Linked DNA regions of Homo sapiens: all the other regions are linked to region 3. The links come from fine-mapping of genetic effects on gene expression. A gene starts in region 3. Each other region holds a variant in brackets. All regions are shown on one strand. Distances are between the middles of the regions. Region 1 overlaps CCDC146 (coiled-coil domain containing 146). Region 2 overlaps GSAP (gamma-secretase activating protein). Region 3 holds the start of GSAP (gamma-secretase activating protein). Region 4 overlaps GSAP (gamma-secretase activating protein). Region 5 overlaps GSAP (gamma-secretase activating protein).

Evidence for each region.
Region 1: its variant is fine-mapped to the expression of GSAP in whole blood (INTERVAL, PIP 0.91).
Region 2: its variant is fine-mapped to the expression of GSAP in whole blood (GTEx, PIP 0.96).
Region 4: its variant is fine-mapped to the expression of GSAP in whole blood (INTERVAL, PIP above 0.99).
Region 5: its variant is fine-mapped to the expression of GSAP in subcutaneous fat (GTEx, PIP above 0.99).

The regions. Positions count from the first base shown.
Region 1 is chr7:77,294,840-77,299,946 of GRCh38, reverse strand. It overlaps CCDC146 (coiled-coil domain containing 146), which reads right to left. Exons shown (of 19, transcript NM_020879.3): 19 at 4,743-5,107. The coding sequence ends at 5,081. Among named protein-coding and RNA genes, the nearest start is that of CCDC146-AS1, 49 kb to the right of the region's middle. The variant A/G (reference allele first, on the strand shown) is at 2,889.
Region 2 is chr7:77,362,204-77,367,310 of GRCh38, reverse strand. It overlaps GSAP (gamma-secretase activating protein), which reads left to right. Exons shown (of 31, transcript NM_017439.4): 13 at 4,651-4,728. Among named protein-coding and RNA genes, the nearest start is that of GSAP, 52 kb to the left of the region's middle. The variant G/A (reference allele first, on the strand shown) is at 3,051.
Region 3 is chr7:77,413,437-77,418,543 of GRCh38, reverse strand. GSAP (gamma-secretase activating protein) reads left to right here and starts at 2,195. Exons shown (of 31, transcript NM_017439.4): 1 at 2,195-2,331. The coding sequence starts at 2,223. It overlaps LOC101927243 (a long non-coding RNA gene), which reads right to left and starts at 3,346. Exons shown (of 5, transcript NR_110073.1): 1 at 3,196-3,346. RefSeq lists silencers at 1,900-2,249, 2,470-2,679, 2,740-3,029.
Region 4 is chr7:77,312,736-77,317,842 of GRCh38, reverse strand. GSAP (gamma-secretase activating protein) reads left to right here. Exons shown (of 31, transcript NM_017439.4): 27 at 3,354-3,473; 28 at 4,294-4,355. Among named protein-coding and RNA genes, the nearest start is that of CCDC146-AS1, 67 kb to the right of the region's middle. RefSeq lists an enhancer at 1,250-1,751. The variant G/C (reference allele first, on the strand shown) is at 3,033.
Region 5 is chr7:77,383,796-77,388,902 of GRCh38, reverse strand. GSAP (gamma-secretase activating protein) reads left to right here. Exons shown (of 31, transcript NM_017439.4): 6 at 1,455-1,543. Among named protein-coding and RNA genes, the nearest start is that of GSAP, 30 kb to the left of the region's middle. The variant A/G (reference allele first, on the strand shown) is at 2,522.

The DNA.
Region 1 (5,107 bases), 120 kb after region 3:
GACAAACTTCAAGTCAAAAGCTGTAAAAAGAGACAGAGAAGACCATTATATACTAATAAAGGGATCAATTCAGCAATAGAACAATTATAAATATATATGCACCCACCACCAGAGCACTCAGATATATAAAGAAAATATTAAGAGCTAAAAGGAGTGATAGACCCCAATACAATAATAGTTGGAGATTTCAACACCTCATTCTCAGTGCTGAACAGATAATCTATATAGAAAATCAACAAAGAAAAACTGGATTTAAACCATATCATGGACCAAATGGACCTAACAGACATTTACAGAACATTTCACCCAACAGGTGAAATACAGGATACACATTCTTTTCATCAGCACATGAAACATTCTTCAGGACTGACCATAGGTTAGAAATAAAACAAGTCTCAAAAAGAGACTTTTTTTGAGATGAAGACACTTTTTTGAGATGGAGTCTCACTCTGTTGCCCAGGCTGAAGTGCAACGGTGCGATCTTGGCTCACTGCAACCTCTGTCACCTGGGTTCAAGCCATTCTCCTGCCTCAACCTCCCAAGTAGCTGAAACTACAGGCATGCGCCACCATGGCCAGCTAATTTTCATATTTTTAGTAGAGACCGGGTTTCACCATGTTGGCCAGGCTTGTCTCAAACTCCTGACCTCAAGTGATCCGCCTGCCTCGGCCTCCCAAAGTGCTGGGATTATAGGTGTGAGCCACCTTGCCTGGCATCCAAATTTATTTTTTAAATCAAAATCATATCAAATATCTGACCATAATGGAATAAAACTAGACATAAATAATGAGAACATTTGAAACTATACAAATACATGGAAATTAAACAACATGCTCCTGAATGACCAAAATGAAGAAGAAAGAAATTAAGGAAGAAATTTAAAAATTCTTTGGAACAAACGAAAATGGAAACACAACATGCCAAAACGTATGGGACACAGCAAAAGCAGTAGTGAGAAGCAAGTTTATAGCAACAAATACTTAACATGAAAAAACTAGAAAGATTTCAAATAACCTAATGATATACCTCAAGCAACTAGAAAATCAAGAACAAATCAAAGTCAAAATTGTAGGAAGAGAGAAATAATAAAGATTAGAGCAGAAATAAATGAAATTGAGAGTAAAAAAATACAAAAGATCAACAAAACAAAAAGTTGGTTTTCTGAAAGAATAAACACATTCAACAAACCATTAGCTAGACTAAGGAAAAAAGAGAGAAGACCCAAATAAATGAAATCAGAAGCAAAAAAGGGTATGTCACAACAGATACAAAAAATAATTCCAGGGTGCTTTGTACTATATGTCAAGTTAGAAAACCTAGAGGAAGTGAATAAACTCCTTGACATATACAATCTACCAAGGTTGAATTGGGAAGAAATAGAAAACCTGAACAGATCAATACCAAGCAATTAGATTAAATGAGTAATAAAACGTCTTCCACACCTGTAATCCCAGCACCTTGGGAGGCCAAGGCAGGTGGATCACTCAGGGCCAGGAGTTTGAGACCAGCCTGGCAAAACCCCATCTCTACTAAAAATTCCAAAAATTAGCCAGGCATGGTAGTGCATGCTTATAATCCCAGCTACTTGGGAGGCTGAGGCAGGAGAATCACTTGAACCTGGGAGGCAGAGGTTACAGTAAGCCAAGATTTGGCCACTGCACTACAGTCTGGGTGACAGAGCGAGACTCTGTCTCAAAACAATAAATTAATAAAATAAAATATATAAAATAAAATAGTCTTCCAACAAAGAAAAATCCAGATGGCATCATTGCTGAATTCTACTGAACCTTTAAAGAAGATTTTTTCTTACATGGGTAAATCATGTAATGCTGAAGTTTGAGGTACAAATGATCCCATCATCCAGGTAGTGGGCATAGTACCCAACAGATAGTTTTTCAACTCTCCCCCCACCTTCTCCCCAATAGTCTGTCGTTTCCATCTTTATATCCATGTGTACTCATTGTTTAGCTCCCCCATTTAAGTGAGAACATGTAGTATTTGGTTTTCTGCTTCAGACTTGCTTAGGTCAGTGGCCTCCAACTGCATCCATGTTGCTGCAAAGAATGTGATTTTGTTCCTTTTTATGGCTGTATTCCATGGTGTATATGTATCACATTTTCTTTATCCAGTCCAGTGTTAATGGGCATCTAGGTTGATTCCATGTCTTTGCTATTGTGAATAGTGCTTTGATGAATGTACAAGTGCACATGTCCTTTTGGTAGAACAATTTATTTTCCTTGGGTATATACCCAGTAATGGGATTGCTGGGTTAAATGGTAGTTCTGTTTTTAGTTCTTTCCAAAGTGGTTGAACTAATTTTACATTCCCACCAGCAGTGTTAAGCATTCCCTTTTTCCTGCAACCTTACCAACATCTTTATTGTGTGTGTGACTTTTTAATAATAGCCATTCTGGCTGGATGTGGTGGCTCATACTTATAATCCTAGCACTTTTTGGAGGCTGAGGCAGGAGGATTGCGTGAGGCCAGGAGTTTGAGAGCAGCCTAGGTCACCTAGTGAGACTCCATCTCTACAAAAAATAAAAATATTAGCTGGGTGTGGTGGTGTGTACCTGTAGTCCCAGCTACTCAGGAGGCTGAGGTGGGAGGATCACTTGAGCCCTGGAGGTGGAGGCTGCAGTGAGCTGAGATCATGTCACTGCACTCCAGCCTGGGTGATAGAGTGAGACTCTGTCTCCCAAAATAAATAAAATAAAATAAAATAAAATAGATAAAACAAAACAAAATGACAATACTACCCAAAGCAATCAACAGATTGATTGTAGTCACTATCAAAATACTAATGGCATTCTTCAGAAAAATAGGAAAAAACAATCTTAAAATTTGTATGTAACCACAAAAGACCCCAAATAGCCAAAGCAATCCTGAAC[A/G]AAATGAACAAAGCTGGAGGTATCACACTACCACATCTTAAATATACTACAAAGCTCTAGTAACCAAAACAGCATGACACTGGGATAAAAACAGATACATAGACCAATGGAACAAAATAGAGAATCAAGAAATTCATCCATATATCTATAGACAACTGATTTTTGACAAAGGTTCCAAGAATACTTATTGGGAAAAGGACAGTCTCTACAATAAATGGTGTTGGGGAAACTGGAGGTCCATATGCAGAAGAATGAAACTAGTTCCCTACTACTCACCCTATTTAAAAATCAACTCAAAATGATCAAAGACCTAAATATAGCACCCCAAACCATAAAACTACTGGAAGAAAACATAGGAGAAATGCTTCAGGACATTGGCCTGAGAAAATATTTTATGAATAAGACCTCAAAACACAGGCAACAAAAGCAAAAATAAACAAATGAGATTACATCAAACTAAAAACCTTCTGCACAGCAAAGGAAACAACAGAGTGAAGACAACCTACAGAATCAAAGAAAATAGTTGCACACTACTCATCCAATAGGGGATTCATATTCAGAATAAATAAGGGACTCAAATATCTTAACATCAAAAAACACTACAAAAACAACAATCTGACTTAAAAATGGGCAAATGATCTGAACAGACATTTCTCAAAAGACATACAAATGGCCAACAGGTATATGAAGAAATGCTCAACATCACTAATCATCAGGGAAATAGCAATTAAAAAAACATGATGAGGTATCATCCCACCCCAATTACAATAGCTATTACCAAAAAGTTAAAAAATAACAAATGCTGGTAAGGATGCAGAGAAAAGGGAGCTCTTATATACACTGTTGGTGAGAATGTAAACTAGTGCAGTCACTATGAAGAATGATATGGAAGTTCCTCAGAAAACTACAAATAGAACGAACATATGATCCAACAATCTCCCTACTGGAAATTTATCCAGAGGAAAGGAAATCAGAATATTGAAGAGACATCTGCACCCCCATGTTTACTGCAGTGCTATTCACAATAGGCAAGACATGAAATCAGCCTAGGTGTCTGTCCAACAACAGATAAGTGGATAAAGAAAATGGGAGCTACACACACACACACACATATGCACATACATATGCACATACACAACGGAATATTATTTAGCCACAAAAAAGAACAAAATCCTGTCATTTGTGGCAACATGAAAGGAACTGGAGGATGTTATGTTCATTGAAATAAGCCAGGTACAGAAAGTTAAACACCACATGTTCTCACTCATGTGTGGAAGCTAAAAATTGTTCTCACTCATGTGGAAGCTAAAAGTAGAACAGCGGATATAAGAGGCTGGGAAGGTTAAGGGAAAGGATGAGGAAAGGAAGGAATGGGGTAGATTTGTTAATAGACACAAAATTACAGTGAAATAGGTGGAATAAGTCCTATGTCCTATACCACTGTAGGATGACTATAGGTAACAATATACAGTTTCAAATAGCTAGGAGGATATTGAATATTCCCAACACAATGAAATGATAAAGTTTGAATGTATATGCTAATTACCCTGATCTGATCACTATACATTATATGTATTGAAACTTCAGTATGTACCCCATGAGTAGGTACAATTATTATTTGTCAAAAAAATAAAATGAAAAAAATGCAAAAAGCCATGACAAGCTTCACTACTTTATGTAATTTAGATTTACCAAGATTAAGTGCTACTTCTTATTCAACAAAGTGAGTTATGCCTTTGCAATACTTGAGGTATTTTCCTTTTCAAATAGCCATTCTTTCTTTTTAAAGTGTGTATATTGAACAGTATTTGTTTTTTCTTTAATAAACAAAGACCACTGTGTCCATTTCCGTACTTCATTGAGAACAGATTTATTTTTAGTGCATTTTTATAGCACCTTGCCTACTACAAATTTCTGGAATGTACTCAATATAAAGAGTGAAAAAGAAAATATAAGCGATTCAAATATATACTTTGACATAAATGTAGGACAGTTCTATGTCCCATTCAACGTCATGAAAGGTATAGTAGTTGGTGGGTAAATAGAAACCCTGTTGTACTCTGTTGCTGACTAATTGTGGTTACCTTACTTATCAATAATATTAGAAGTATTATGCTCACATTTTTCACCTGTGGGTACAAGGAAGCCTGGTTGAAGTCTTTTCCTTGAGAGGCCTGGATTTGTTCACATATTCAGATTTCAACTGGCTTTATAACAGG
Region 2 (5,107 bases), 51 kb after region 3:
TGGTAGCATTTCCCTTGAAAACTGGCACAGGACAAGGATGTCCTCTCTCACCACTCCTATCCAACATGGTATTGGAAGTCATAGCTAGAGCAATCAGGCAAGAGAGCATCCCAAATAGGAAGAGAGGAAGTCAGGCTATCCCTGTTTGCATACGGCATGATTCTGTAGAAAACCCCATAGTCTCAGCCCAAAAGCTCCTTCAACTGATAAACAACTTCAGCAAACTTTCAGGATACAAAATCAATGTACAGAAATCTCTAGCATTTCTTTACACCAACAAGAGCAAAGTCAAGAGCCAAATCAGAAAGGCAATCCCATTCACAATTGCCACAGAAAGAATAAAATACCTAGGAATACAGCTAACCAGGGAGGGGAAGTTAAAGATGTCTACAATGAGAATTACAAAACACTGCTCAAAGAAATCAGAAGTTACAAAGAAATGGAAAAACATGCTCATGGATAGGAAGAATCAATATCATTAAAATGACCATACTGCCCAAAGCAGTGTACAGATTCAATGCTATTCCTATCAAACTATCAATATTCTTCACAGAACTAGAAAAAACTGTCTTAAAATTCATATGGAACCAAAAAAGCCTGAGTAGCCAAGGTACACCTAAGCAAAAAGAACAAAGCTGGAGATATCATGTTACCCAACTTCAAACTATACTACAGGGCTACAGTAACCAAAACAGTATGGTACTGTTACCAAAACAGGCACATAGACCAATAGAATGGAATAGCGAACCCAGAAATAAGGCTGCACACCTATGACTACCTGATCTTCAGCAAAGCTGACAAAAGCAATGGGGAAAAGACTCCCTACTCAATAAATGGTGTTGGGATAACTGGCTAGCCATATATAGAAATTGAAACTGGAACCCTTCCTTACAACATAGACAAAAATCAACTCAAGATGCATTAAAGACTTAAATGTAAAACCCAAAATTTATAAAAATTCTGAAAGAAAACGTAGGCAATACCATCCTAGTCATAGGAATGGGCAAATATTTCATAACAAAGACATCAAAAGTAATCACAAAAGAAGCAAAAATTGACAAATGGGATCGAATTAAACTTAAGAGCTTCTGCACAGCAAAAGAAACTAACAGAGTAAACCAAACGACCTACAGAATTGGGAGAAAATATTTGCAAACTATGCATCTGACAAAGGCCTAGTATCCAGCATCTACAAGGTACTTAAATTTATAAGACAAAAACAACTCCATTAAAAAGTGGGCAAAGGACATGAACAGATACTTTACAAAAGAAGACATGTGGCCAGCAAGCATGTGAAAAACTCAGTATCACTGAGGATTAGAGAAATGCAGATAGAGGTTACAATGAGATACCATCTCATACCAGTCAGAATGGCTATTATTAAAAGTAAAAAAAAAAAAAAAAAAAAAAAACCCACAGTTGCTGGCAAGGTTGCAGAGAAAAGGGAAGACTTATACACTGTTGATGAGAGTGTAAGTTAGTTCTACCATTGTGGAAAGCAGTATGGTGATTACTCAAAGGCTAACAGCAGAACTACTATTGGACCCAGCAATCTGATTACTGGGTATATACTTAGAGGAATAAAAATCATTCTACCATAAAGATATACGTATGCAAATGTCAATTGCAGCGTGATTCATGTTAGCAAAGACATGGAATCAACCTAAATGCCCATCAGTGACAGATTGGATAAAGAAAATGTGGTACATACATACCGTGGAATACTGTGCAGCTATAAAAAAGAATGAGATCATGTCTTTTGTGGGAACATGGATGGAGATAGAGGCTATTATCCTTAGCAAACTAACGCAGGAACAGTAAAACGAAATACCTAGTGTTCTCACTTACAGGTAGGAGCTAAATGATGAGAACTCCTGAACACAAGGGAACAACAGACACTGGGGTCTTCTTGAGAGTGGAGGGTGGGAGGAGGGAGCGGAGCAGAAAAAGTAACTATTGAGTACCAGGCTTAATAGCTGGGTGATGAAATTATCTGTAAAAATAAACCCCTGTGATATGAGTTTACCTATATAACAAACCTTCACATGTACCCCTGAACTGAAAATAGAAGTTAAAAAAAATTCCTGTAGTCCCAGCTCTTTGGGAGGCCAAAGTAGGAAGATCACATGAGCCCAGGGAGTTCAAGACCACCCTGGGTAACATAGACTCCATCTCTTAAAAAAAATAAAATAATTAGCCAGGCACACATGTAGTCCTAGCTATTTGGAAGGCTGAAGTGGGAGGATTGTTTGAGCCTGGGAGGTTAAGGCTACAGTGAGCCATGTTTGCACCACTGCACTCCAGCCTGGGCAACAGAGTGAGACTTTGTCTCAGATAAATAGTGCTTCAGTCATATTATCCACATTTTGAGTGTTCAGTGACTACATGTGGCTAGTTGCCACCATATTGGACTATACAGGTATATAACATTTCCATTGTCAAAGACAGTTCTGTTGGATAGCTTCACAGAGCCTGTGTACATACCATTTCAACTTGCTGTGTCTTTTTTTCCCTTTGGGATTGGGTGGGGCAACTAAGCATGACCTAACAATTTGGAAATATTTGCTTATAAGTTCTGGATATGGTTCTTAGAATATGTAATTAGGTACATTTATTCTACATCTCATTTTATTTTATTATTACACTTTAAGTTTTAGGGTACATGTGCACAATGTGCAGGTTAGTTACATGTGTATAAATGTGCCATGCTGGTGTGCTGCACCCATTAACTTGTCATTTAGCATTAGGTATATCTCCTAATGCTATCCCTCCCCCCTCCCCCCACCCCACTACAGTCCCCAGAGTGTGATGTTCCCCTTCCTGTGTCCATGTGTTCTCATTGTTCAGTTTCCACCTATGAGTGAGAATATGCGGTGTTTGGTTTTTTGTTCTTGTGATAGTTTACTGAGAATGTACATCTTACTTTTTTTCAAAATGAGAAAAACTTTCATTCTCTAAAGGATGGAGTGCAGATAGTTTGCTAGAATGGAGGTTATGATCTATGTTGCCATCATGTTCATTTCCCAGGATAGAATCCTAAAAGAATTACT[G/A]GGTGAACAGGTATGAATATATTTAACCCTCTGTGAAAGAATTTTTCTGAGATATTGTGTTAGTTGACTCATTCACTACTATTTGAGAATTGTGTAAGAAGCACATGCTCCCTTGACAGTATTTCATTATCATTTAAAAAACTACTTCTAAAGGAAAATTATGGTACCTTGTTTTAATTTTTATTTATTACTAGAGAATCTAAAGTCTTTTTTTTAAGCAATTTCATGTTCCTTGTGATTATAGTATATAAAAGAATGGATAAACAAGTAGTTTTTTGCTGATAATGTTTACTGTATGAAAGCAGTCCAAGTGGTATATGAGACTTTTGTAACTCTTATAATTATTATTTTGTTTATACTTTAGTGATAGATTACTTTTATTCTCAGTGAGTCATGAGTCAGCTGTAATTGTAAAGAAAAGTTGTTATTGTGTGCTCAGTAACCGTAACAGTCATTTTACATCTAATAGAATTGTTACCATGTTATCTGATGAAGTTATTCTTTTTTGCTATTTTGTGTTTAAGATAATTGCAATAAAATGTACTGCTGACAATACTTTGCAGTGTTAAATGTCATTAAAAAGTCATAATTGATAAATATTATAACAGAATACTTATAAATGTCCTTGAATAGCCCTCTTAGGGGAAACTGACTTTTTTTCTACCACGATTCTTTGATAAAGAAACTAATGAAGGAAAGTAGAGGAAACATTGAAATCCACTGAAGTAGAGTAGCGATTGAATTCACACAGCTAGTTAACGTTAGCTCTGGGGCTAGAACTCAGGTTTCCTGACTCCTTGTCAAGTTACTTTCTACCTGTCAATCTCCTATTTCAGTTAATCACATAAATGATAGACATACCTGTTTAAGCATACTGTCCTCAATTGTATGTAGGTCACTGATGGACATTAGTCCATACAGCAGCAGCTGCTAGAGATAATGTACAGTTTCATGCGTTGAGAGAGGTGGGGAAAGTTGAGGGTGTTCTGGAGTGATGGGGTAAGTGAAGGGGGTCAAGACTCACCTGGAAAGGCCACTCTATGCCAAGAGCTCTCCTTTGGCCTTGGGCCAATGCCTTCAGTGACTCAGTTACGGATGGATATGGACTCACATGCCACATTTGTTTTCACTGACCCATAAGATAGATCACACTTTGCCTTTCAATCAAGATAAACTAGAGACTGGTAACTTTCTGTGAAATGAACACATTTTTGATAAACTGGTGTTCACAGCTGTTAGTAATAATTGCAAGGTGACAAGCTAGATAAGGGAGGACAATGCATGCTTACTAGGAGAATCTCATGAAGCTTTGGAAACTGTCTAGAACCCCATTATTTCATATGCAGGAGTATATCTGTGTTCATTTTCCTATCCTTCAATAGCCTGCCACAATATGTTGCTATATAGTGTGCACTAAAAAATTACTGCTTTGAAATTTCTTAGCAACTTGTTAATAGACCACTTCTAGGACTTGGGAATAATCTATGAGGTAAGATGAGACAGGACATCTAAAGGAATAGAAGTAAGTTTAAGTGGTTTAGGAAACTTTATTTATGACATAGATTCTGTTAAACTCTACTAAATATCCTTTTTCTTCTAGGAAGTTTGTGTGTATGTTACAGCCCGAAGTGTGCCTCTTGGGGACAAATCACATATTCAGTGTTTTACATTCATAAAGGTACTTTTCATGTCTTCTTTGTTACTTTTACATAATAACTTTTTCCAAATAGTAGCAAATTAGATAGCTCTTAACAGTGTTATTAGTAATTTTTTGGAGACAGGGTCTCCCTTTGTCACCCAGGCTGGAATGCGGTGGCATGAATACTGCTCACTGAAGCCTCAACCTTATGGTCTCAAGTGATCCTCCCTCCTCAGCCCACCAAGTAGCTGGGACTACAGGCGTGTGCCATCATGCCTAGCTAATTTTTGTATTTTTTGTGGAGATGGGGTTTCACCATGTTGCCCAGGGTGGTCTTGAACTTCTGAGCTCAAGTGATCCACCCGCCTCAGCTTACCAAAGTGTGGGGATTATAGGCATGAGCCACCATGCCCGGCTG
Region 3 (5,107 bases):
AAGGGCAGAGGATGGCTCCAAAAATAATTTACCAAGGTTTCTCTTCTCTGCAGTTCTCTGGACTCTCCTGACTCCAATGACTCCATTTTCAGTGTGCTAGATGGCTGAAATTCCAGCAATCATATCTAGATCCCGAAATAGTTAAAGACTGAAAGGGACCATCTTTTCCCATGTCTCTTGTTTTAAGAATAGAGAAATCTGTCATAGCAGAGGTTTCCTTACAACTCAGTGGCCGGAATCGGGTATCATACTCTGACAGAGATCTCTAATTGCTTCTGAATATCTACTTTCCCCACCTTCTTCAGTAATACCGTCCTGATTTTTATCTGGGCACAGCAATGGCCAGGTATATTTCCTTGCCTCCCTTGAAAGCTACATTTGGCCATGTGACTAAATTCTGGTGAGTGAAACATACGTAGAAATGTTGTGTAGAACTTCCGGGAAGTATCCTTAAAAGAGAGGTAGCATCCTCTTTTTATTCCTCTTCTTCCATTCTGATTTCTGGAATGCAGACGTGAAGGCTGAAGCTTCTGCAGCCCTCTTTGATCATGAGGACAAGGGTACACTCAGGATCAGGTGGAGCAAAGAACTGGAAGGAGCCTGGGTCCCTGATAAATTCAGGAACCTGCCCTAAGAGCTTTATTCTGCCTACGTCCAGCTAGGTGACAGAATAAAACTTGTGTGTTTAATTTACTGTTAATCTGAGTTCTTATTAACTTCTGGAGAATCTAATCCTAACTGATACACATGCCTTCATATAGCACCCTCATGATTTTGGCCACATCTTTCTATCATTATCTTATTGTTTCTCACCTTCTTTACATTGGCTTTTTCACTTAATTTGAAGAGAATTTTTTATATCATCACTGCTTGACTATAAAATCAGTCCTGCCTGGCAAAAATAGAAGTTAACTGCAAAAATAAAAACAATGGAAATGTACTGACTTTAAAAAATTGGCCAACAGTGTTTCTGTATGACAAAGGCAACAAGCTTATTTGATATGAAATAGTTGCATTAGCTCCTTGGGGGCTCCAGTGGCCTTCCTTTTATTCACTGATAATATTAGCAGCTTCATTAGGCATTTATCTTAAATTTGCATGCACTTCCCGGGTGGGAGGACTTTCCTCTGTATATGGTGGTGAGTAATGGAGTTCTACCTGAAATCATCCATTACCTCAGTTGGAGAAACATGTCTCTAGGAGGGAAAAAAATTCAAGACTTTCTTTTACATTTGGTTGGAGTAGTTTTCAAACTTAGTAAGCCTAAGAATCACCCGAGGCTCTGGGTAAAATGCACGTTTCTGGTCTTGTCCAGGTGTAGAGATCAGGAGTCTGCATTGTAAAATAGTGCCCCAGATGACGTCAATACAAGTAGTTTTCAGACCTTAATTTCGGAAGCATGTGAAAAAGCATTCTTTATTACTGTATTCACTCATTCTTCAGTAATTGTCGAGCACCTTCCAGAGTGCTCTGTTAGACCCTGGTGGGAGGCAGAGGGTTTGCGTGGAGACTTAAGATTCAGTTTTCATGTCTCAAGGCATCAAATGAGATGTACTAGAGTTAAAAGGCAAAAAGGACGCTGTTTGTATCAAGCGCATTAACCCCTTTTAGCGTTTCTCTTACAATGGGATCACCTTCGTCATACGCTCCCAGTTGCTACTCATTACCTTAATAACACTAATAAAGCACCACCACCTCGAAGCTGGGGCGAATAGGCCCAAGAGACGGCCTACTTCTGTGGTGACCCTGAACTGCTCCAGAGGACCCAGCTCTCTCAAGCCAAGTGGTTTCCACACTTTGCTGCACAGTGGAGGCACTTGTAGAATAAAGAAAATAGGCCGACCCTCCAGGTTTGGAAGCCACTGGGCTAGCGGCCTCGCCAAGGCCCTGAAGCGCCCACGTCTTTGCGCCCTCTATCCTCAGCCCCGAAGGTGCGCGCGGAGGCCTCCCGCCCCGGCGGGCCTGGTCCTGGCGCCTGGTCCACCCCGCCCCACCGCTACCCGCCGTGCCCGGCTCCGGCTCCGGCTCAGGTGCGGGCCGCCGGCCGGGAGGAGCTGGTGCCGGAGCTTCTCAGGCCAGGGCGCTGCAGAACCGAAAGCAGCAGGGGGCGGGGGAGAGGAAAGAGGGGGCGGGAGCGGGGACGCGAGGGCGAGGCGGCCACGCGGGGCCGGGAATGCCCGCGGTGCGGGGCCCCAGAGCCGCCCGGTGGTCGTGTCCGGGCGATGGCTCTTCGCCTGGTCGCCGACTTCGACCTCGGGAAGGACGTGCTCCCGTGGTTGCGGGCGCAGCGGGCAGTGTCGGAGGCCAGCGGGGCCGGAAGCGGCGGCGCAGGTGCGGGAGGCGCGCTGCGGAGAGGGGTGGGGGCGGGGAGTGGGAGTCCCTCATACCCCCCGGACTCCGACCCGGTGGGGAGCAACCCGGGGCGTCGCCGCCCTGAGAAGGCTGGTGCGAGGGCGTCGCTCCCCTCCTCAGAGGGCTGTTTTGGCTTTGCCACCCACACCCAGCCACGGCGGAAGGTCTGGGGGCAGAGCCCGGGCCAGGTCGCCGTGGGGCCTGAGGCGCCTGGCTCGCTGCCGGCCCGCGGAAATTCGCCCTTGGCAGAGGGGCCGGGCCGCTGGCGGTTCCCTCAGCATCACCTCACGGCGAGGGCAGAGGGTCGTGCTCAGCTCAGCGGCCGCATCCCACCTCCCGGGGGGTTCATCGGCAGCGCAGGGGCTTTGCCAAGACAGGAGTGCTCCTGGAAGCTTCACGTTTTGAGAAAGAATCCGTGACCACCAAGCAAACCACCCTATACCTAACGGTGGAACAGTTTGTCCCCACATTTGCGAGACGTGTTTATGTGTCTGTTGAACCGTGTCCGTGGCTCAGGGGACATGGGCCTCGGCGGTGAGGCGCAAGAGGGCAGGGGCCGCCTCCAGGCTGCGCGCGGCGGGGCGAGAGCCCCCAGCCGCCCCCGAGCTCCGCACCTGTGCAGGCTGGGGCTGCGCGCGAGATGCTCGGCTCCCGGCCCTGCCACTCCGGGCTTTTTGATGATTTGGTAAGGGAGTGAAAGTGACTTTTGAGCCTTCCCAGCACTGATCTGTTTTAAAGAAGGGGAACTTTGTGATTTCTTACAAAGTTTTAAAAGTCTTCTATAAATATTGGAGCTTCAGAGCTTAAATGCAGCTTCAAAGCAATGATGCCTGTAGGTCTCACCTTGTGTGTAGGGCGCTGTCCACTTCAGTGAATTTGGAAGTGGGTATTAAATGACCCACATCTACAACTCCTTTCCCTTAAACGCTGGTGAAAGTTTTCTTGATGTGAGTTATATATCAAGTTGCTATCTTGTATCTTCACACTCTCCTATGACTATAGCGAAATTATTTGTAGGTTTCCTTGGCTTGGAATATTATTAGCTCCAAATAAGGAGTTATATGTTTGTGTAGCGTATGCATTGAGTTTGCATTAGTGTCATGCTTAGTAAGGCTTTACTTTTTTTCGAGGTGGAGAGGGTGGTCAAGGAAGAATTTTATACAAAAATTAGCTGGGCGTGGTGACACGCTCCTGTAATCCCAGCTACTCGGGAGGCTGAGGCAGGAGAATCGCTTGAACCTGGGAGGCAGAGGTTGCAGTGAGCCGAGATCTCGCCACTGCACTCCAGCCTGGGCAACAGAGTAAGTCTCCGTCTCAAAAAAAAAAAAAAAAAAAAAAAAAAAAAAAGTCGCCCACATGTCTGAAAAGTTTTTGAAGGCTTAACTTTTTGAAATACAACAGGCAGCTCTGTCTTCTACTACCAAGTACTCCTTTTTCTGGACTCCCACTTTATTTTGCTAAATGGCAGGTGTCTGCAAATGAGAAGTTAGATGAGTGTGAAATGCCACAGTCTTATGTTTCCGTAATGTGTGTCGTGCTTGAAAAGCTGTGTGTGACCCACTGGGACCTGGCTTCCTTGTATCTTTCGCTCATCTCTGAAGAAATATAAACTTGTGTATTGACCTTCCACTAAACAACAGATAGCTCTAGGTCCTCAGAAGGTACTTTCTGGAAATACTAGCTTTTCTGATACTGGTAGTATTTTGCTCTTTCAGAGCAAATATCTTGGTAAGATATTAGCCCTGTTATACTAAGAGAATTATCACCTCTGATAATCACCAGTGGGTGGTAGCTCAAAAATACCCCCACACAAATTAATTCCTGTTCTGTAATTTATAGCAGTGGCAGGGAAATCTGGGATTCTGTCTCATTTCTAGCACAGCAGTTACAACACACATTTGTGGAAATCATTATCCTTTCAAAGTTCTGGCTTTTCAAATGTAAATTATGAATTACTATACCATTGTAATGCCTCCTCTATGCATACTTGCTTTCTGAATTTGAAGCCTTAATGTTTTTACATCAACAAATACAATTGAAGTTTTCTTAGAGGTGCTAAGTAATTCTCATGAGATATGTATGATATATTCCTGGCAAAACAGAGAGCTGGGCTGAGTCAGCCATGGAAATTCTGTGCCTGTAAGCATTTTGGTCAATAAGGGGTCAAGGAGGAAGGAGAACAGATTTGGTTACTGCATTTGCTCCTGGTTCTGGGTTGAACTTTTGAGAAAACAGTTTCTCCTGAAATAAAAGAAGATATTTGTTAAAAATCAAAACAACTACATAAAAGAATATTTTAACAGGTAGCTGTAAATGATAAAAGAAAGAAAAAAACCACCGAAGTAAAACCGTGTATCCACTACCCAGCTTAAAAACAGAGCAATGTCAAGACTCTTGAAGTCTCTTATGTGCTCCTTTCTGATTCTATTTCTTTCTCTCATCCTCACCTCCTAGGTTGGCAACCATTTACATTTTTATATTTTAACATTACTTTGACTTTATTTGTAGTTTTAGCCTATATGTATGGGCAAAATATTTCATTTTGCTTGCCTGTGAACTTTAAACATACTGTATGCATTCCTTTTGCTTATTTTCCTTCTCAATATTGTGAGATTTACCCATATTGACTGGCTAGCTGCAGGTTATTAATTTGTATTAATTAATGCTATATAGTGTTCCATAGTGTGAATTCAACACGATGGTGGACATGGAGATGCACCCCTTAGATTTTCCTTTCAAAGAACAGCTTGTCCCA
Region 4 (5,107 bases), 100 kb after region 3:
GAAAACTACCTTTGTGGCTTAAATTCTTAATTGTTTGTTGTTAACACAAAAAATTTGGTAGGGAAATGGATTGACAGTTTTAGATTTGTTCATTACAGATATTCAAGCTTCTTTTGAAAATAAATGAAACTGACTTACTGGGGACATTGTTACGCCTGGAGATCATAAAAATCCACTTTCTACCCAACTCACATTCCTTCACAGTGATAAGGAGGGAAAACAAAGATGTTATCCATAGTGATCGAGAATTATTATAAGTAGACTTATGGCTTGTGTCTGTGGGTCAGGTAAGGAAAAGGTGTTTCTCATTTTTTTAATTATACTTTAAGTTCTAGGGTACATGTGCACAACGTGCAGGTTTGTAACATAGGTATACATGTGCCATGTTGGTTTGCTGCACCTATTAACTCGTCATTTACATTAGGTATTTCTCCTAATGCTATCCCTCCCCCAGCCCCCAACCCCACGACAGGCCCCAGTGTGTGATGTTCCCCCCCAACCCTTGTCCAAGTGTTCTCATTGTTCAATTCCCACCTATGAGTGAGAATGTGTGGTGTTTGGTTTTCTGTCCTTGGGATAGTTTGCTGAGAATGATGGTTTCAAGCTTCATCCATGTCCCTGCAAAGGACATGAACTCATCCTCTTTTATGGCTGCATAGTATTCCATGCTCTCTCCTTTTCTCTTGAATGTTTATTTCCATCATGTGACATGGAAATAGAGGGGGGAGGTGACACTGGATCATGTGTGTGTGTGCATGTGCATGCTTGTATGAATTCAGGGTGTTTCTATATGCACATGCGTAAGTGTGCTTGCTTTCCAGGCCTATTGGACTAATGATGACTGTTTGAGTTACGATTGTCAGAGACTTGTAACATGAATTGGTTAAAGTTAAGAAGAGAATGGGGAACACAAAAAGGAAGTCAGGGTTTAGAGCTAGGGCATTTGCTTTTAAAAAAAGGAACTGTATTGCACTTGCTGGCTAGAGGAGGCCAGGAGCCCTGGAAGATGAGGATTAAAGTTGGGTGGAGCTGATGACTAATTATAGCCAATTTGCTCTGTTGCTCAGAGCTGATGTATAGAGGCCAAGAACAGGTCCCTGAACTTGGGACTGTGCCCTGGGGATAGAGGATGAAGGGTCATCAGGGACCTTTAGCATATGAACACAGGGCTGGAGAGGGAAATTTGAATCCAGAAAATCAATATCATCAATAATCTAGTGTAAACTTTTCTTCAGAAATAATTTTGTAACTTTTTACTAATAGTTTTGTGAAGAATTTCCAAATCCATTTGAAAAACGTTGTTGTTAATTAACTAGTAAAATAGTGGAGTTTTTTTGGACTCAGGGAAGCTAGTGGACTCATCCTGTTAGCCCATTAACACATGCTTGTGGGCAGAGCCTGTACTTCATCTGACCCTTGATGTTACAAGGACTTAGGACTGTGCCCCATGGCTTGTGATTCATGTGTTTAGAGAGAGAAAATCCCATGATTTCTCTGAATCCAAGCCCTGCTCGTTGGGCATCATCCTTTTGTCAGGTACCTTCCCAAGAGTAGGCTATGATTCTTCTGTCAGTCATTCCCACATTCAATGAGTTGCAAAGCCTGTACATGTTACCATGCCTCTCTGATTCAGTGCCTCCATTACCTCTTATCCACGTTCAGGCAATAGCTTCTCTACAGGTCTTCATACCTTCTGTAGCAAATTATTACTCCAACTCATTCTTTGCCTGTTGCCATATTAATATCCCAATGGTAAATCTTCTGTTCTGCTTAAAAACTTTCATTACCTCCTCAAAGTCTCTCAAATTAATAAATCTCTATCATTCAGCATTCAACCTCTGTCACCTGCACTCATAAGCACAGAACTGGTCACATTTTTAAAAATGTCTATTTTTTGTAATTGATTGTCTGCCTCCCCCAGCAGACTGCAAGGTGTATGGGAGCAGCAGTTGTGCCTGTTTTGCTCATTTTTATACTCTTAGCCCCTTGCCAGGTGTGTGGAAGGGATGTGCTGAATAAATTAGCTTTTCCAACCTTACCTCTTAATCTTTCTCTCCTCTAATATGATTCCAACCCAGCTGGATCATTTACTATTTTCTGAATATGCCCTGTGCTTTCTCATCTTCGGACCTCTGTTCATGTTCTATTAACACAGCTGCCAGTTATTAACAGTGACATTATGGTTGAAAGCCTACCCTACAATCACACAGTTGATGCAAATTTCAACTTACACATTATTATTTCTGTGATCCTGGGCAAGTTGCCTAGCTCCTGTGAATCTTGGCTTTTGGTTTTTCCATTTATGAAATGGGAATCTAGTAATTCCCACCCCATACTTTTGTATGAGGATCAGATGAGCCAGGACACAGGTTGAAAGCCTTGGTACATGTCCAGTATGGGTCGCTATTGTTATATTGCATGCTAGGCTCTTCACAGACCTGGCTCTAGTTCTCAAAGCAGCCCTGTGGGAAAGGTACTGGTGGTTCCAATTTAGAGATGAAGAAATGGAGGCTCAGAAAGGCTTAGTTGCCTGCAGCTGGTGAGTAATACAGCTGGATTCTGGCCTAGGGCTGCTCATGCCAAACCTGGCTTTTTCTACTGTCCGCACTCATTTCCACTGATAGGAATTGCATCTGTCCTTTGAAGCTCCCCGCAAATGCCATCACTTCCAAGAGAGCTGTTTTGATTCTCTCCTGGTCTGATACCTTCTCCCATGCATGATGTTTTTATCTGTTGTCAGTAGTAGTATACTTAGAGATCTGGGTTTCTGTGGGTAGCTCTACCCGTGAGACAGGCTTGAGAATGCCTGCCTCTCAATTGAATTCCTATAAATTTACTATCTGGCCATATTGTCTTAATTCTTTCTTTTCTATACTTTAGTCCAAGTAGACTCTAAAAGCCTTTCTCTAGGGCATACCCAGAGATAAGCCATATAAACTATTGCCTTCTGGTCCAAATTTGTTTCCCTTCAGCAAAATGGTCCTCATCCCAACAACCTTTTAGTCTGGACATACGAAATCTGAAATGCTTCT[G/C]TACTCTTTTGCTATCTTACTGTAGAATCACAAACATATCAAACCGTAAAACCATTGAGCAGGCCCTTGCTCTGTTTCTGTGCAGGAAGAGACCCAAGGAGCAAGGAATGTATACTTACCGGAAACTTACTATAGACCCAGCGTGATATTTAGTTACGAATAATACAGAGAAGGAAACTTGGACCTTGTTTTCAAGAAATTCAGTTGGTTCCAGGCACCAAGCACTGAACTAAGTGCTTTATTAACATGATCTAATCCATTCCCCGGGGGCTGCTGGAGATGTTGGCTGACTGTGTTTACCCTCCAGATCTCTCATCCTAGGTTTTCATACTCTGCACACCATCCTCGGGGTCCAGTGTCTCCCTTTGCATAACCTGCTGCATTGCATTGACAGTGGAGTGTTGCTTCTCACTGAAACAGCTGTCATAAGGCTCATGAAAGGTAAGAAGCCCTGAGTTTGCCAGAGTGCTAGTTCCAGCCTGAGCACCACCAAGGCTAGCTTCTTGGGTGTGCAACCTGTGCAGTCACCAAGAGCCTGGCTGCACTCAGAAGAGTGCCCTGCTCAGTTTAATGCTGCATTACATCTTGAAATTCTTAGTAGTATTTGAACGAGGGCTTGCTCGTGTTCATTTTGTGCTGAGCCCCACAAATTATACAGCTGGTCCTGTGAGCACAATCCATTCCCTGTAATCATCTTTTGGGCCAATTTAAGGTTTCTGAGCCCTTCACGAGGTCCTAAGGGACTTTTCAATCCACATACAACTATTAGATTCCTTTTCTGTGCAAGAGGGCACTTGAGGCTAGGAACCTCTGCAGGCTTGTTTCTCAAGAAAATGTCACGAAATGGCTTATTTTCAGCTGATTAACTCTGTCATCTCAAAGTTAGACTAGAAATGCAAGGAAAATTATTGAGAGGGGCAATTAAATGAATTTGAACTTTAAATTCTGTAGTATAATCACTCAAATTATTCAATTGTATTTTAAGATGATTTTTGTTTATATGAAAGCATTTGTCATTCCTCAAGGTACCTTCTGTTTTAAGTTAGTCAATAAAATTGCTTTGTACCTGGCAGCCTGTTATAGAAAAATCCCTTTTTATTCAGAGAGTCAGAGTAAAATTTCCAAAATGCTGTTAGATTAGCTTGAGAATACACAGTTGGGATATGTCCTATCAAGATGAACCACTCAAGTATTAATATTAACTTGCTAAAGTATCAAAATGGGTATTTGTTTCATTTGCTAATCTCTAACTTTCTTGTAGATCTGGATAATACAGAGAAAAATGAAAAACTGAAATTCAGTATCATTGTGCGGCTTCCTCCGGTAATACTGAGTTACATTTTATTTTCTCCCTAAGCTTTGGCATTACCCTCCTTCAATTTCTTCTTGCAAAAAGAGCATTTACTTGCTTTGGGTTAAAGTCAATTGAATTGTTTCACTTTTCAACACTTCCAAGAAATCCCACCCGTCCCCAGCCCTCTGTTAGCTGTTTCCCACTTGGCCTACAAAGCACTTGCTCTCTGGCTCTGCACTGCCTTGGCACAGTCCAGTGAGAACATTAAGCCATTTTTGCCTCTTAGGAAACCACACTAATATTTACATCTGAGTCTGAGAGGGAGGGAGAAGGGGAAACGTGCTTTTGGCATTTAAACAGATTTAACTTGGATACATTGGAATACAGGTGAGGACAGAAGGTTCTAGACCTGTATTTCCCCTTACTGCATTTCTACCATGGTAGGAAGACATTCCTAGGTCAAAGGAAGAATGAGAAACATGAGGGAATATCAACACTTAGAGTGAGAGATACTATGAAAATATGACATGGTAGGAAGACATTCCTAGGTCAAAAGAAGAATGAGAAACACAAGGGAATATCAACACTTAGAGTCAGAGATACTATGAAAATATGAAATTCCACAGCAAGGTCTTCCGAGCCTCTAACTCTGCAAACTTCCTGACCTGGAGAGCCTTAGCCAGCTCCATCTGCTGTGTACATGCCTTGCACACTTGCACCTCTGGCACTGTCCTCTCACGAACGGCTGTCTGTTACCTTTCTGGACCTAATCGCCCTGCTC
Region 5 (5,107 bases), 30 kb after region 3:
GTATATTATATGATTCAATATAATAACTCACTTACTGTCTTTTTCAAGTAATATTTAAAAGGCATGTTTATAGATAGATCCAGACCTTCCAGTTGTTAGGACATAGCTCAGAAATTGTTTTACGTTCTTTGCTTTTTTCAAAAAATAAAGCAGTGCTCTCAGGTTGCTTTCTTAAATATTGAAAACTAACACTGATTAAATTCCACGCTTCTGTGCCATCCCCAAATTTTGTATATTATTTTTCACAGTGAAGTCACTGAGAGACACTGGATCATATTAGAGTCTCAATAAAAGCTCAAATATAAGGCCAGTCCTTCTTTTCTACGGTGTAATCTTGGGGGAAGGGGAACCTTGACCTAAATTTAGATATCTTTGGTAACTCCATGCGGGGAAGCCTGTGTCCATGGACTTCCTCCTGATTGCTGTATTTTATGGCATTTGCTCAGATGTGACACTGAAGAAGTAAGTGGGTCATTATCAGTGCTATACCACTGTCCCTGAGGGAAACCCAGCCTGTGTCCTAATGATAGATACTGTCAGCCTTAACATGTTCATGTATCAGAAATCTTTTTATTTTCCTACACAAACAATATTTGCCATTGTGCTGCCGAATTGGAGTGACAGAGAATCGCACTGTGTTTGTTTAGACTTAAAAGCCTAGAGGGCTTGTGGAGCTATGCTAAAAATGGCATGGAGTGAGTACAAACAACTTCTTCACTCCGTGCACATTGATTTCTCCCTTGAGATCTTTTCTGTGTCTCTGTTGAATTTGTAGAAATGTCAAAGTCAAACTTTAAAGTCAAACTTTAAGAAAATCACCTTTTTTTCCCCCTGGTAGAATAGCTAATACAATAGTTAGCATATTTATATTTTCAGAAAGTTCAGACATGTCTGCTTTTGCAAATCATAGAATTGTGATAATTGGGAAAAATGATATCCATTAGAAACCCGTTAGGCCCTCTTATATGTTGCTGGTGAGAGTGCAAAGTAATATACAGTGATCTTTGAATTCAGAAGCCACTTGTGTTTTAAATGTGATGCTTTTCTGTAAATGCAGAATTCTTATAATCTGAAATTTGTCTCCCTTGTATCTACTGTTGTTTCCAGGGCTGTTCAAAGACTTCCCTTTTCACATTTGCATTTCTTGAGTATCCTGTGGTTTTCATAATAAAATGCAGCTTCTTCAGGGCTCCTGAGGGTGTGGAAGGCAGGTCCTTTGCTGGGCTGATTGCTCTTTTGGGGTCCTGGAGCCGCTACACATCCTAGAGAGTAGAACTGGGAACAGATTTACAGTTTCAGTCTCCTCACAGGACTCTAGGATGGTGGTAGAATTGTTTTATTAGTTTATAGTCACTGTAGTAGGATTTACCGGAAATTGTTCTTACTCCTTGCTTTGGAAAAAATAATGTGTGATATTACAATCTTCGTTACTAAAAGCCTTCTTTTCTCTGTAGGATCAAAGTGCTTGACTTTGTTGGTTGAAATCCACCCTGTTAACAATGTGAAGGTTCTAAAGGCTGTGGATAGCTATATTTGGGTTCAGGTAAGTAAGCATGCCATTTATCACTTATCTCATTAATCAAAAGGCATGCAGCCTAGAAGAATTGGGGTTTACAAAGTACTTTCACTCTATCATATTTAATCCTCAGAACAGTCTTGTAGACTACTATGGCTGGAAGTATCCGCTCTTTGTTTGCAAGCATGGAAATTAAGAACTCGAAGCTAGCTCCACCAACTCTGTTTGTTTCTTAGTAATGTAATATTTTCTCATGATAAAATATCAAATATTAAAACACATTTAAGGTAAGCTTTAAAATGGTCAATATAATGTATTTGCATGGTTGACAGATTAAGTATCTATGGTTAAATGGCTTAATCCCTGAATTTATCAACTTCATGAGTTGATGCAGAAACTGCATGTATAATGTAGGTGGCATAGATACAGTCATTCCTCATTATTTGCAGATTCCATATTTGCATATTCTGCTGCTCCTAAAATTTATTTGTAACCCCTAAATTAAACACTTATAGTACTTCGTCAGTTATTTGCAGATACATGCTGAGTGGTGAAAGAATTTGTCACCCAACATGCACATTCGCAATTGAGGTTGAACACGGTGATGCCCTGCCTTTTTTGCTTTAGCTCTCATACTAAAATGACAGTTGTTTTCATGGCCTAGTTCCATCTTTCAATTTTTGTGCTTTTTCCTGGCGATTTCACAGTTTAAACGGCTTCCAGGAATAGCGCTGAGGCACCGTCTAGTGTTCCTAAGTGCAAGAAGGCTGTCAGATGCCTTAGGGAGAAAACATGTGTTTCAGATAAGCTTCATTCAGGCATGAGTTACTATGCTGTTGGCCATGAGGTTAAGGAGTGTCTTTAAATAGAAACACACAAAACAAAATTATATACTGATCTGTTGACAAACATGCTGTGACTAGAGGCTTCCAAGAATTTATCCTTGTTTGGGTTTGGATCATAATCCCAAAAGACAATCCTGAACACCATAATCCTGAATGTTGA[A/G]ATCCTGAAAGGTCAAAAGTCTACAGTCCCAAAAGCCATGATCACAGGATAGTTAGTATACACGAGTGTCTATACTTTCAAAACTGTGTATGTTATTATTGCCTATTTTATTGTATAAAGTGGACTATGAAGTGTTCTTTTGTGTTTTGCTTCTCAGATAAGTCTTCTTTTAAAAATGTCAATACATCTTTTAAATAATTTTTAAAATTATTTTCTTCCAGAATTATATTTTTGGGATTTTGATCTTTTGGGATTTCAATATTTAGGATTATGGCATTTGGGATTGTGTCTTTCAGGATTATGATCAACTCCCTTTGTATTTCCCTAGAAACAATGGTTCAGTATTCAGTATACGACATTTGTGGTGACTTTACAGAACATAACTACTGCAAATAATTTGAATGAACTGTGTGTGTTCACACAGTGCTACAGCATAATTTCCTTTCGCCTAATTTCACATTTTGTTACAGGGTCAAAATATCATTTCTTTTGGTCTAGCCAGAGTCAATTTGCACCACTCAAAGTATCTGCCTTTTTGTCCCCCAAGCTATTACCAGCCTCCACCCTATGGGCCTCCCTATTCCAGTGGGTTAGGGGAGAGGGTTGTCTCTCTCTTCCCAGGGTCCTCCCCTGTCAGCCAGTCCTTTCAGCTGCGCATTTCCCCGCCACTCCTGACAGCACTGTGGTCGCTCCTCAATTCCAGATATGGCCTGGCCTGAAGCTCCCAAGCTGCATTCTCCTACCCTCAGGAAGCTACTCCGTCTACACTGTCATCAATGTGGGGAGGCTGGGGACAGAGCACACTTCTCTTTTCTGGTCTGTTCTTTGGCTTCCTTAGCATCTTGTTAGGGCCATATAGATGGTAGAGACATGACTGAAGGATTGGGGTAACTAAAGGGAATTGGAGCATAGAAAGGGGAAAAGTTTTTAAAAGCAAGTGGTTGTATACATTGCGAATATATTAAAATCTACCAAAAATTGTATATATTAAAGTGGTTAAAATGGTAAATTTTATGTTATGTGAACTCAGTTTTAAAAAGTTAAAAGTGGCTGGGCGCAGTGGCTCATGCCTATAATCCTAGCACTTTAGGAGGCCAAGGAGGGCAGATTGCCTGAGCTCAGGAGTTTGAGACCAGCCTGGCCAACGTGGCAAAACCCCATCTCTACTAAAAATATAAAAATTAGCTGGGCGTGGTGGTATGCTACTGTAATCCCATCTACTCGGGTGGCTGAGGTGGGAGAATTGCTTGAACCTGGGAGGCAGAGGTTGCAGTGAGCCAAGATCGTGCCATTGCACTCCAGCCTGGGCAACAGAGCGAAACTCCATCTCAAAAAAAAAAAAAAAAAGTTAGAAGTACATGGAACAGGACAGCATCTATAGGCCAAAGGAAAAGTCCCAACCCAAATAAAGTAAAACTTGTACTAATTCTGTGGACCCATCTTAGTCCCTAGCCCTGCCTTCTGCCCCCATGTCTCTGCCTCTGGAGAGAGAAACTCCTCTAAACCCCAGTGGCAAATCCCCGCCTTCTCCCTCCTGCCTCTAGAGAAATGACATCTACTGTCCATTGAGTTGGTCTTGCCCTGGGATCAATTTCCTTTTTCTTACAAAAACATCCATGGTGATCTCCAGCAGCACATTTCCCTAACTCTGCATGTGTAGTCTTGACAACCTACACAGAGGAGCTTCAGCAGGAGTGGCAGGTGGGGCTTGGATCCCAATCCGGGACCCTTTGAGTGTTTCCTTCCAGCACAAGGTGTGTCTTCAAGATAGTTCCAGTGGGTAATTACACACCCTCTACACACCGAGACTACAGACCTCCAAAGACCAATATTCATTCTAAGTCTAGCTCCATATTTGTGAAGATAAATTTTTCAAAGTAAATATAATCTGCATAGAATCCTACTTACAATACAAAAAAAATAACCTTGAGTGCTTTTGCAGAGCTGTGTCTGAATCCTGTCTACTTTTGGCTTCCAGGCCTTACTCTAGGACCACCTTATAATAGAAAGAAAAACAACACCTACCTGAACGGGACTTTTAAAATAACATTCTCCCTGATTGTCACAGGAAGACCAGGCAGAGGTTTAGAGGTTGGCAGTTACACCTCTTCAGCACCTCAGTCCATGTCACATTCCTAAGCAGGCATGCCCTGGCCACCTCTGTAGACCGGGAGGCCATACCATCTTCCATAGCAGCAGATATCTCCATATTTTGAGGCACTGAACATTTGTTCTCCCATCCTATATGTGGTGTCATTCATCTCTGCTTTTCCTCAACTCTGGTATACAAAGTATCTTGTTTGATGTGTGACATTTTACAAATTATGAGACAATTAGTTCTGTATTATTTTTGTAGCTGAATTCTGCATTGCTATTTTATAATTTTGACTTTATTGCTGTGAAGCATATGTTTTGCTTTTCATTTCTAAAAGGGAACTCAACTATAAATGTTCCAAAATTTGACTAGTACTATTTTTAATCTGATATTATGCAAAGGTAGGACACTAGGAAATAATAAAAAATTGTCCTAAGTTTAGTGAGACTAATGACTCGGAGATTGGGACATAAAAGTTGTGCCCTTTTATA